2 separate regions of the Homo sapiens genome follow, and region 1 is linked to region 2. The links come from fine-mapping of genetic effects on gene expression. A gene starts in region 2. The other region holds a variant in brackets. All regions are shown on one strand. Distances are between the middles of the regions. Region 1 has its middle 9.1 kb from the start of FAM131B. Region 2 holds the start of CASP2 (caspase 2).

Region 1 (5,521 bases), 84 kb after region 2:
AAATCAAGTTCCTTGCTGTACTTCCACAGACAAGGAAAATTCACCTCTCAGATTTTTACAGTCACACACTTAGTAAGTGGCTGAGTTAGTAAGTGGCTGAACTGTAACCAAAATTCAGGTCCTCTAATTCTTAGTCTAACATTCTTTTCCCTATCCTAAGATGCACCCCTAAAGCTATGTTACATTATTTTTCTATGACTTTTATTATAACATTAAGCCCTGTTGAAATAAGCTCAGGCCTCATAATCTTTTTGCTTATGGAGACTGTTCAACTTCTTGCAGATAAAACAGGTTAAAAAAATGTTTTGGCCGGGCGCGGTGGCTCACGCCTGTAATCCCAGCACTTTGGGAGGCCGAGGAGGGTGAATCACCTGAGGTCAGGAGTTCGAGACCTGCCTGGCCAACACGGTGAAACCCCGTCTCTACTAAAAATACAAAAATTACCCGGACATGGTGGTGGGCACCTGTAGTCCTAGCTACTCGGGAGGCTGAGGCAGGAGAATTGCTTGAACCCAGGAGGTGGAGGTTGCAGTGAGCTGAGATCGCACCACTGCACTACAGCCTGGGCGACAGAGCGAGAATCCGTCTCAAAAAAAAAAAAAAAGTTTTAAGCGAGTAGATCTCCTCATAAGCATTCTTACCAACCACAATAAAATTAAAAGAAAAAAAAAGACCATTGTTCTTTCTAACTTAGGAGTTCAGAGCTCATTTAAGAATGGGTACTTAATCCTAGTGTATAGGTTCAGACCACCGTTTGGTTAAGGTTTTGTGATGGTGATAAGCTAATAGGGACAAGGCATTGCTCTCCTGGGTGGGGGTCCACTTGAAAGCTGTTCACTCACTGAATCAATCAATCACAATTATCCTGCCAGGGCACCCACACAGGCAGGAAGGTCCAAAGGACACTGGAAATTTTGAACGCCAGGTGCTGGGTGTTTCTCTCTTTAACTTAAAGAAGAATTTCCTTTCCAACCTCTTTGTTCATGTATATGCATGAGGTGGCTAGTGGTAGTCAAGCCTGAATTTTATTACTGATGGTGGAAAACTGTGTTGGGGGCAGGGCCAAGGAATGCAAGCAATGTCTTCCTTCTAAGGTGGGAGCTGGAATTTGCCCCTTGATCTTTCTCTTCCTGGAGCTCTAGTTTCTCTCACAGCCAAAATTTTTGAAAGAGCTGCCGGCACTCATCTTCTCCATTTCCTTACTTCTCTGCACTCCTCAACTTACCCAATCTGGCATCTTCACTCTACTGAAGCAGCTCACACGGGGGGCTCCCCTGTCAGAGGCAATTGAACCAGAGCAACTCCATCTTGAATAGGAGCTGGGTAAAACAAGGCTAAGACCTGCTGGGCTGTGTTCCCAGACGGTTATGGCATTCTAAGTCACAGGATGAGATAAAAAGTTAGCACAAGACATAGGTCATAAAGATCTTGCTGATAAAACAGGTTGCAGTAAAGAAGCTGACTAAAACCCGCCAAAACCGAAATGGCGACGAGAGTAACCTCTGGTCTTCACTGCTACCCTCCCACCAGCGCCAACAAATGCCATGGCGACCTCAGGAAGTTACCTTATGGTCTAAAATGGGGAGGTATGAATAACCTACCCCTTGTTTAGCATATAATTTAAAAAAATACACACACATGAAAATGGGCAACCAGCAGCCCTCAGGGCTGCTCTGTGTGTGTAGTAGCCATTCTTTATTCCTTTATTTTCCTAATAAACTTGCTTTTACTTTCCTCTATGGACTCGCCCTGAGTTCCTTCTTGTGCGAGATCCAAGAACCCTCTCTTGGGGTCTGGATTGGGACTTCTTTCCAGTAACACCCTTAGCCTCCATGTTAACAGATTTTGTTCATTTCTAACCTTAAGTGGCACATCAGGGGCATTTCATACCCTCGTGAGGGACTCATGGTTACTCCCTCATTCCCAAACACTCTTTCTTGGTTCTCCTCTTGACTTTCCGGCTGCTCCTTCTTTGTCTTTTTTTGTTAGTTTTTTCCATTATTCATTCATTCATTCCATATTACAGGTATTTAAGGAGCACCTACCTACTCTATGTCAGTACCTCTCTAGGTTCTACGATCCAAAACTCCTGCTGTCACGGAGCTTATAGTCTAGTGAGAAGTGGTGGGGCAGAAACAGCAATACAACAATTAAGAGACTGAATTGTTTGGTGGGGGAGTGCCAAAACCCAGGATGGAATGATATATTTAAGGTGATAATTACTATGAAGAAAAATTAAGGAAGGGCCAGGCGTGGTGGCTCATGCCTGTAATCCCAGCACTTTGGGAGGCTGATGTGAGAGGATTGCTTGAGCTCAGGTGTTCAAGACCAGCCTGGGCAACATATGGAGACCTTGTCTTTACAAAAAGAAAAAGAAAATTAGCCAGGCCTGGTGGCACATGCCTGTGGTCCCAGCTACTTGAGAAGCTGAGATGAGAGGATTGCTTGGGCCTGGGAGGTAGAGGCTGCAGTGGGCCATGATTATGCCATTGCACTCCAGCCTGGGCAACACCGCAAGACCCTGTCTCAAAAAAAAAAAAAAAAAAAAAAAGAAAAGAAAAAAAGAAAGGAGAGGTGGATAATAATGAAAGGGCTGGTATATGTCATTCTAAACTGGATGGTCATGGGAGGCCTCACTGAGAGGTCAGCATGTGAGGAAGGCTATGATGGAGATAATGGGGTGATCCATACAGATGTCTGTGGAAGAACCTTCCCAGCAGAGAAACTAGCAAATGCAAGGCCCTGAGATGGGAATGTGCCTTACACATTGGAGGAACAGTAACAAGGCCATTGTGGCTGAGGCAAAATGATTGCTGGGAGATGAGGCCAGAGAGCATGTGGGATTAGTTTGATTTGATGTAGGTAGAGCCTAGGAAAGGTTTTTTTTCAATTTGTTTAATTTTCTCCTTGCAACAGGAAGCAAGGCATCAGCTATGCATGAGGATGTGGAAGGAGATGTGGAGAGAGAGGAGAAGGTCTAGAAGCCTTCTGAGAGAGTCAGAGTGGGAGAGTGGATGGAAAAACGAGACTGGTATGTTTATCAGGACGTAGAAAGGTCAGATGGCATCTGCAGCTCACAGCCATGGAGTTTACAATGAGATCTGTCAGAAGGGCTGTATGTTTTTCTGTAG[T/C]GCCACCCAGCTGTGTGGGTGCAGGCATGGAGTTGGTAGAATTGGACTCAGCCCAGGCTGGGGTTTTGCCAAGTGAGCACCACAGGGTGAGAAAGAGGCACAGGAAGTTGAGACAGATGTAAGGGAGTGACTGTAATGATTGTCCAGGAAATGTGAGCTGGTATGGACGTGAATGGCAAGTTCCAGTGGGCCAAGGGATTGTCGAAGCACAAAAAGAGAATGACTAGAAAAATAGAAGGAGCTGGTTGGAGAAAGTGTGGCTTAAAATTAGGATTGTACAGAGATGGCTCAGGGTCTATTTAGAACTTGCTATGCAATGTGGGAGCCACCAGCAATGTGTAACCTTTGAGCACCTGCAATGGGACTAGCGTGAATTGAGACATGCTGTAAGTGTAAAATACACACCAAATTCCCATGACTTAGTGCCAAAAAAGTAAAATACCTCATTAATAATTTTTAAGGCCTGGCACAGTGGCTCATGCCTGTAATCCCAGCACTTTGGGAGGCTGAGACAGGCGGATCATCTGAGATCAGTAGTTCGAGACCAGCCTCGCCGACATGGTGAAACCTCGTCTCTACTAAAAATACAAAAATTAACCAGGTGTCGTGGTGGGCACCTGTAATCCCACCTACTTGGGAGGCTGAGGCAGGAGAATCGCTTGAACCCGGGAGGCGGAGGTTGCAGTTGAGCCGACATTGTGCCACTGCACTCCAGCCTGGGCAACAAGAGTAAAACTCCATGTCAAAAACATTAAAAAATAATAATAATAAATAAATAAATAAATAATTTTAAAAATAGTGGTTACACCATTAGTGGTTACATGTTTGGGTATATAGGCTTACTCATTTATTTTTTTTCTTTTTATTCATTTATTTTTACTCTTGGCCAGGCACCGTGGCTCACGTCTGTAATGTCAGCACTTTGGGAAGCTGAGGCAGGTGGATCACTTGAGGTCAGGAGTGCCAGACCAGCCTGACCAACATGGTGAAACCCCATCTCTACTAAAAATACAAAAATTAGTCAGGTGTGGTGGTGCGCACCTGTAATCCCAGCTACTCAGGAGGCTGAGGCAGGAGAATCGCTTGAACTGGAAGGCAGAGGTTGTAGTGAGCTGAGATCACACCACTGCACTCCAGCCTGGGTGACAGAGCAAGAGAAAGAAATGAGGGTGTGTGACCCAGGGCAACAGATGACTATATAGGATGTGCAGTAGTTGTGTAGTTTAATCACGTGACATTCAAAACTGGGGGATTTTAGGAAGGAGGGAGGGAGAATTGTCTGGATATAGCAATGAGAGTTCAAAGAGATATCTGTTCCACATTCAGGGCTATGGGGAAAACATTGTCTGCCACCTGGTGGGGGGCGCTGAGGCGGTGTGTCCTCAGGGATGATCCAGGTTAGAATAAGAAGGAGAGAGGATGCTCAAAAAAGAGGAATGCTTGCTGAAAAGGGCCTACATGCTCTGAAGGCACCCTGGACTGGTTTTCAGGAGTTGAGCCAGGGACCAAGGTGTAGCAGGAGCTAGGAATTTAGGGCTTCTTTCCATAAGTGACATTCTGGGGTTAATAAAAGGGACTTAATACAGGACTTAATAAAATTAGCTCTGGTGGTCTCCAGGCGAGCAACTGTGGGCAAGGCACTCCTGCGCTCACAGTGTAGGCAAAGTGGGAGGAGTAAGCATCCTTTCTTTACTGCTGGCAGAGACACAGAGGCCTGGGGAAGAGCAGATGTGCCTTGCATCTGAGTGAGGGTGACTTTTACTCAGAAAGTGCATACCTCCCTCTTCCACCTAACCATAAAATGCTAGAATCCAGCAAAGCCCATATCCTAGCCCTCTCGACTGTTCATGCAATATTTGATAGGTGATTTTTTTTTTCAGCCAATAATGGCTTCAAATTGCTATTTGGAGGTAGATGACTTATAAATGTGGATCTTCAGTATAATTTTCTTTTCTCTGCCTTGGACCTGGATATCCTACTGCCCACTGTGCGCCTACTCATTCTCAGTACGTCCAGAATGAAACACACAATCTCACTCCCAGACCTGTACTTTTCAGTGGAGAGTGCCACGCTCCACATAGGTACCAACCAGAAGCTGGGATGGGCCTGTGATGTCTCTTTCTCCCTTTGTCCCATTCTTTCTGTGGACGAGTTCATGTCCTAAAAAGCTCTCTACTCTATCCACTTTTGTCCATTTCCACAAATCTCCTCCCTTTCACCTCGAGCTCTACCAGAACCTTTTAATTGTCCTTCACACATCTGCATTGGCCTCTCCTGTGACTCTCCACACTGCCCCTAAGGCGACACTTTCAAAATTCCCAAGTCTCTTCACGCCCCTCTTTTCAATCGAAAACTCTGCGGTAGTTCCCCATTGCTCTCAGGATCAAGTT
Region 2 (5,000 bases):
GGGTAGAGGAGGGCCCTGGCAGATGTGGGGTCTAGAAGAGGACAGGAGTTATCAGGGCCTCCGGCCATTGTGCTGGGCCTTTGCCTGTACAATTGTTTCTCAAGCAGTTGTGTCCCTGTGGCTTTGGTGCGCCTGTGTGCACTTTCTCCCTCCACCTGGAGCATGGGCTAACACCGGAGGAAAGGAAAAGACAGAGTCAGACAGGGTAAGTGGGGCTCCCTCCCCTCTTCTCTCTAACGGGGCTGGATTGAGGGCCTCTGGCTGGGGAGGTGGGGGTGGAGATCCAGTAGGAGCAATAACAGAGGAAGGGCAGGGCCTGCCCCATCACCTGAATTCCAGAGATGCCAGTGTGCACTGAAGCCCCAGGCAGGGCGTGCCCAGGACCGGATCCTGGATGGTGGTAAGGGACAAAGCTGGAAGGGAGACTACAGGGAAGGAGAAAGGAAAGAAGGCAGAGCCATGACACAGTCAACTTACAGAATGGCTGGGAGTCAAAGCTCCTGGGCTGGTTTCCTGGCTATTCCACACACTCCAAGACATAGAGAGAATTTCGGAACTGGAGGGGACTCTACAGATGATTTATTTGAGATTGAAGAACCTAGAAACCAAACAAAGAAATATCATATGGTTACTTTGGTATCTGACACAGCCATGACACCAATTGCTAGTGTAGACACAATAGCTGTGTGTCTTTTTGCAGGAGCCTGGGGAGGGGCCATGGTGCCAATGCACTTACTGGGGAGACTGGAGAAGCCGCTTCTCCTCCTGTGCTGCGCCTCCTTCCTACTGGGGCTGGCTTTGCTGGGCATAAAGACGGACATCACCCCCGTTGCTTATTTCTTTCTCACATTGGGTGGCTTCTTCTTGTTTGCCTATCTCCTGGTCCGGTTTCTGGAATGGGGGCTTCGGTCCCAGCTCCAATCAATGCAGACTGAGAGCCCAGGGCCCTCAGGCAATGCACGGTGAGTTAAGGGTGGGCATCGTAAGAGGAATACACCTTGGGCCCATCCTCCCTCTCTCCCTGTAGTCTCTGAGGCAGAGAGTCTCTGGTTTCCTGTCATTGGCATCAGCGGGAGGAGGGGTCAGAGGCCAACAGAGGATCTTTTGCCCACAGCAGACAAAAAAAAGGGAAAAAGGGCTTCTTTCATGGAAGCCACCAATGGCCTTATTTCTCTTCCCTCAGGGACAATGAAGCCTTTGAAGTGCCAGTCTATGAAGAGGCCGTGGTGGGACTAGAATCCCAGTGCCGCCCCCAAGAGTTGGACCAACCACCCCCCTACAGCACTGTTGTGATACCCCCAGCACCTGAGGAGGAACAACCTAGCCATCCAGAGGGGTCCAGGAGAGCCAAACTGGAACAGAGGCGAATGGCCTCAGAGGGGTCCATGGCCCAGGAAGGAAGCCCTGGAAGAGCTCCAATCAACCTTCGGCTTCGGGGACCACGGGCTGTGTCCACTGCTCCTGATCTGCAGAGCTTGGCGGCAGTCCCCACATTAGAGCCTCTGACTCCACCCCCTGCCTATGATGTCTGCTTTGGTCACCCTGATGATGATAGTGTTTTTTATGAGGACAACTGGGCACCCCCTTAAATGACTCTCCCAAGATTTCTCTTCTCTCCACACCAGACCTCGTTCATTTGACTAACATTTTCCAGCGCCTACTATGTGTCAGAAACAAGTGTTTCTGCCTGGACATCATAAATGGGGACTTGGACCCTGAGGAGAGTCAGGCCACGGTAAGCCCTTCCCAGCTGAGATATGGGTGGCATAATTTGAGTCTTCTGGCAACATTTGGTGACCTACCCCATATCCAATATTTCCAGCGTTAGATTGAGGATGAGGTAGGGAGGTGATCCAGAGAAGGCGGAGAAGGAAGAAGTAACCTCTGAGTGGCGGCTATTGCTTCTGTTCCAGGTGCTGTTCGAGCTGTTAGAACCCTTAGGCTTGACAGCTTTGTGAGTTATTATTGAAAAATGAGGATTCCAAGAGTCAGAGGAGTTTGATAATGTGCACGAGGGCACACTGCTAGTAAATAACATTAAAATAACTGGAATGAACTCCTGATCCCAAAGCCTATTGTGTTTTCAACACAAGGTAATAGGAAGCCAAGCAACTTGCATGTCTCCCAATCCCTGTCTAGGGACAGCTGCTGGTGCAGGATGGAAGACTTCCTATAAACAGAATGGGCGACCAATTGTGTCTACAGAGGGGGTGGGCTGAGCATGGGCACGCATGTCCCCAGCCTCCTGGACGAGCAAAGTCAGTCAAAGCGCTGGTGATCCCTGCTCCGCGTGCGTAGCAGTGTCTGTGCCTCTCCTGCCCAGGGGCTAGAGAGCAGTCTCCAGTGCAGGGTCCCCATCCTATCTGAAAACAGTGGAGTCAGTGACCCCAGGTGGAGGGACTTCCAGTTTTAACAATGGGTTGGTATGAAGGCCAGAAGGAGTGAAACATGTGAACTTTCTGGCGAGGAGACTCCCTCTTGAATCATCCATATGTAGCCCCGGGGTCACTTGCGAAGAGTCTCTAACAGCTTCTGCCTCACTCCTAAGCTCTGACCGCTAGGCTTTCACCCCAGCCGCCGGTCCTGATTCCTGAGATCCCAATATTGAGCACCAGGTTTCCTGGAATTGTGTGCTGCGGCTGTGATGTAGGTTTCGGTCGCTGGAAGCTGCTAAACCATAGCTGACGCCCCCTCCTAAGCCAGCCTTCCTTCCCCGCGCGGGCATCTGTCCAGGGCCTTGTCGCGCTCTCAGTCTCCTTCGCAGCCTGGCCCCAACCGTTCAACTTCAATAAAGCAAAACTCCAGCCACGCCCGTCTCCGTGAAGTTATCGCCATAGGCCGGCCAGGGGGCGCGAGAGGCACCGGGGTGATTTCCGCGGGAATCGATAACCAATCGGATTCCCAGGCCGAACGGAGCACACCCGCCCGCCCTCGCTCTTTCCCCGCCCTTTGCCCCGCCCCGCTCCTTCCCCTCCTTTTGTCTGTCCGCCGAGCACCCCACTTCACCCCATTGGACCGCGCGGCCGCCGCTAGAGCTCTGCGCCTGCGCACGCACCGGGCCGGGGACTGGGTGGCCTGGTGTGTGGGCGCGGCAGGGCGCAGGCGCAGGCGCAGTGTGCGTCCGCGTCTGAGGGGAGGGATGTGGGGGAAGCGACGGCCCCCGGTTTGTTTGGGCTGTGGGCGGTGCGCAGCGGAGAGCCCGGGAAAAGCGGGAAATGGCGGCGCCGAGCGCGGGGTCTTGGTCCACCTTCCAGCACAAGGAGCTGATGGCCGCTGACAGGGGACGCAGGTAAGTAGGGAACGGTCTTAGGGCTCCTTAGGGGAGCCCAGGGAAGGGGAGCGTGGCCCCCAGGCGTGCGGCCCTGCAGCCCCCTCCCCTCGGAGCCCCGGAAAGCAGCCGTGTCCGCGCTTCCTGCCAAGGGTGGGACGCCCGCCCGAGCCGCTCCGAGCCTGACTCCGCGCAAGGGCCCGCGGGCGGACCTCTTGGCCTTGTCTCTCGTGGGAAAAGACTGCCCCAGCCTCCCTTTGTTCAACCCACGAGGGTTCTAAAGGGGAGGTCTTTGCAGTCCTGCCCGCTCTTGGGTTCTCTTGAAGATTCTTCATCCTTTCCTCTGGCTCCCTTATGAGGGAAACTATAAAAAGACCATACTCTGTCTCCTTAAAAATCGACGAGACCTTCTGCAGACCTCGGTGCTCTGCCTGATGTGCATTTGATTTGTATCGATTGTATCATGATCTGCATGGCTTTGCATAGAATGACCAGATTTTCAAAGAAGTCAATACAGGGTTTGGAAATTGAGTACTTTTGGCAGAACAAGGGGGTTCCTGTGGCTCCGAGTGTCCATGCCTCTGCCCCGGTCATTCCATTTCATGGCAGTCATCACCCAGGAGAACATTGTAATGCCTCCTGCTCGAGACTGAAGATTAAGGTCTTCGCAAAGGGAACCTGCAGAAGGACACAGAATTAAGACGTAGGAACTCCGTGGTGCCCTTCGCCCCTCCTCCCCTTCCAGTTGTGTCCTGAAATTCTAAATGATTGGAAACTTTTATAATGTTCACGTTTAAGACTCTCATACTACAGAGTAGAGGAAGGAGCGGGTGTGCAGAGGGGGTGATGCTTCAGATTAAAACTAAAGAGTTGATTGAAAATTCAAGTCTGGAACTCGAGAGAGTTAAGAACTATAAGTCAGTAAGTTGCAAGTATGGGTGAGATTGTCTAGGGAAAGGCTCTTTGAAGGGGCGTCCCTAATGGAATATCAATATTAAGGGCAGGCCAAAGGCCCTCTAAAGAAAACAGGAACTGGGTAGGCAGAGAGAAGACTCCCAAAGAATGCTGTCATGGAAACCAGAGGAAGAGAACGATTTAAGGAGCGAATACTACTGGTAAACTAATGGAAGAAATCTGCTGCACCACTGGTTAGTATCCCAGCTGCAGTGTTATATGTGATCGTTATTACTGCTTTGACGTATTCGAAAGTGATTCATTCTTAAATAGGTTTTTTTATTTGTATAGCTCTTTTTCTTGTAGCCAGTTTTTCCTGAAAGTCTTGGGTAATGGAAATATTACAGTAAAAAGAAGAAAAAATGGAGTTTCAGACTCATTTTTCCAAACCTCAGATTCATTGGCTGCTTCCAACCCACTTCATCTGTTTTAGGATCCCACCTGCTATCTTAGTTCTCCCAGTTCTTCCAGGACCCAGCTCTTCCCTCTTCTAACTATAAATCTCTCACCCAATAGCATCTGCAAGCCAAGTGCATCCATTCCATAGATGTGTGGTATTTCACTGACTCTAAGATACACATTTTTTCCCTCCCTTTTTTTTTTTTTTTTTTTTTTTGGACGGAGTCTTTGCTGTGTCACCCAGGCTGGAGTGCAGTGGAATGATCTCAGCTCACTGCAACCTCCATCTCCAAGGTTCAAGCGATTCTCCTGTCTCAGCCTCCCGAGTAGCTAGGACTACAGGCATGCAGCACCACACTCGGCTAATTTTTTGTATTTT

Evidence for each region. PIP is the estimated chance that this variant, and not a neighbour inherited with it, causes the effect.
Region 1: its variant is the best candidate, but not a certain one, in a credible set for the expression of CASP2 in whole blood (TOPMed, PIP 0.79).

The regions. Positions count from the first base shown.
Region 1 is chr7:143,369,086-143,374,606 of GRCh38, forward strand. It overlaps a transcript of FAM131B not described here. Among named protein-coding and RNA genes, the nearest start is that of FAM131B, 9.1 kb to the left of the region's middle. The variant T/C (reference allele first, on the strand shown) is at 3,132.
Region 2 is chr7:143,285,241-143,290,240 of GRCh38, forward strand. CASP2 (caspase 2) reads left to right here and starts at 3,111. Exons shown (of 11, transcript NM_032982.4): 1 at 3,111-3,289. The coding sequence starts at 3,216. It overlaps TMEM139 (transmembrane protein 139), which reads left to right. Exons shown (of 3, transcript NM_001282876.2): 1 at 1-205; 2 at 701-962; 3 at 1,184-2,808. The coding sequence starts at 718. The coding sequence ends at 1,589. TMEM139-AS1 (TMEM139 antisense RNA 1) reads right to left here and starts at 1,094. Exons shown (of 3, transcript NR_133932.1): 1 at 737-1,094; 2 at 478-598. RefSeq lists an enhancer at 1-943 and a silencer at 2,738-3,487.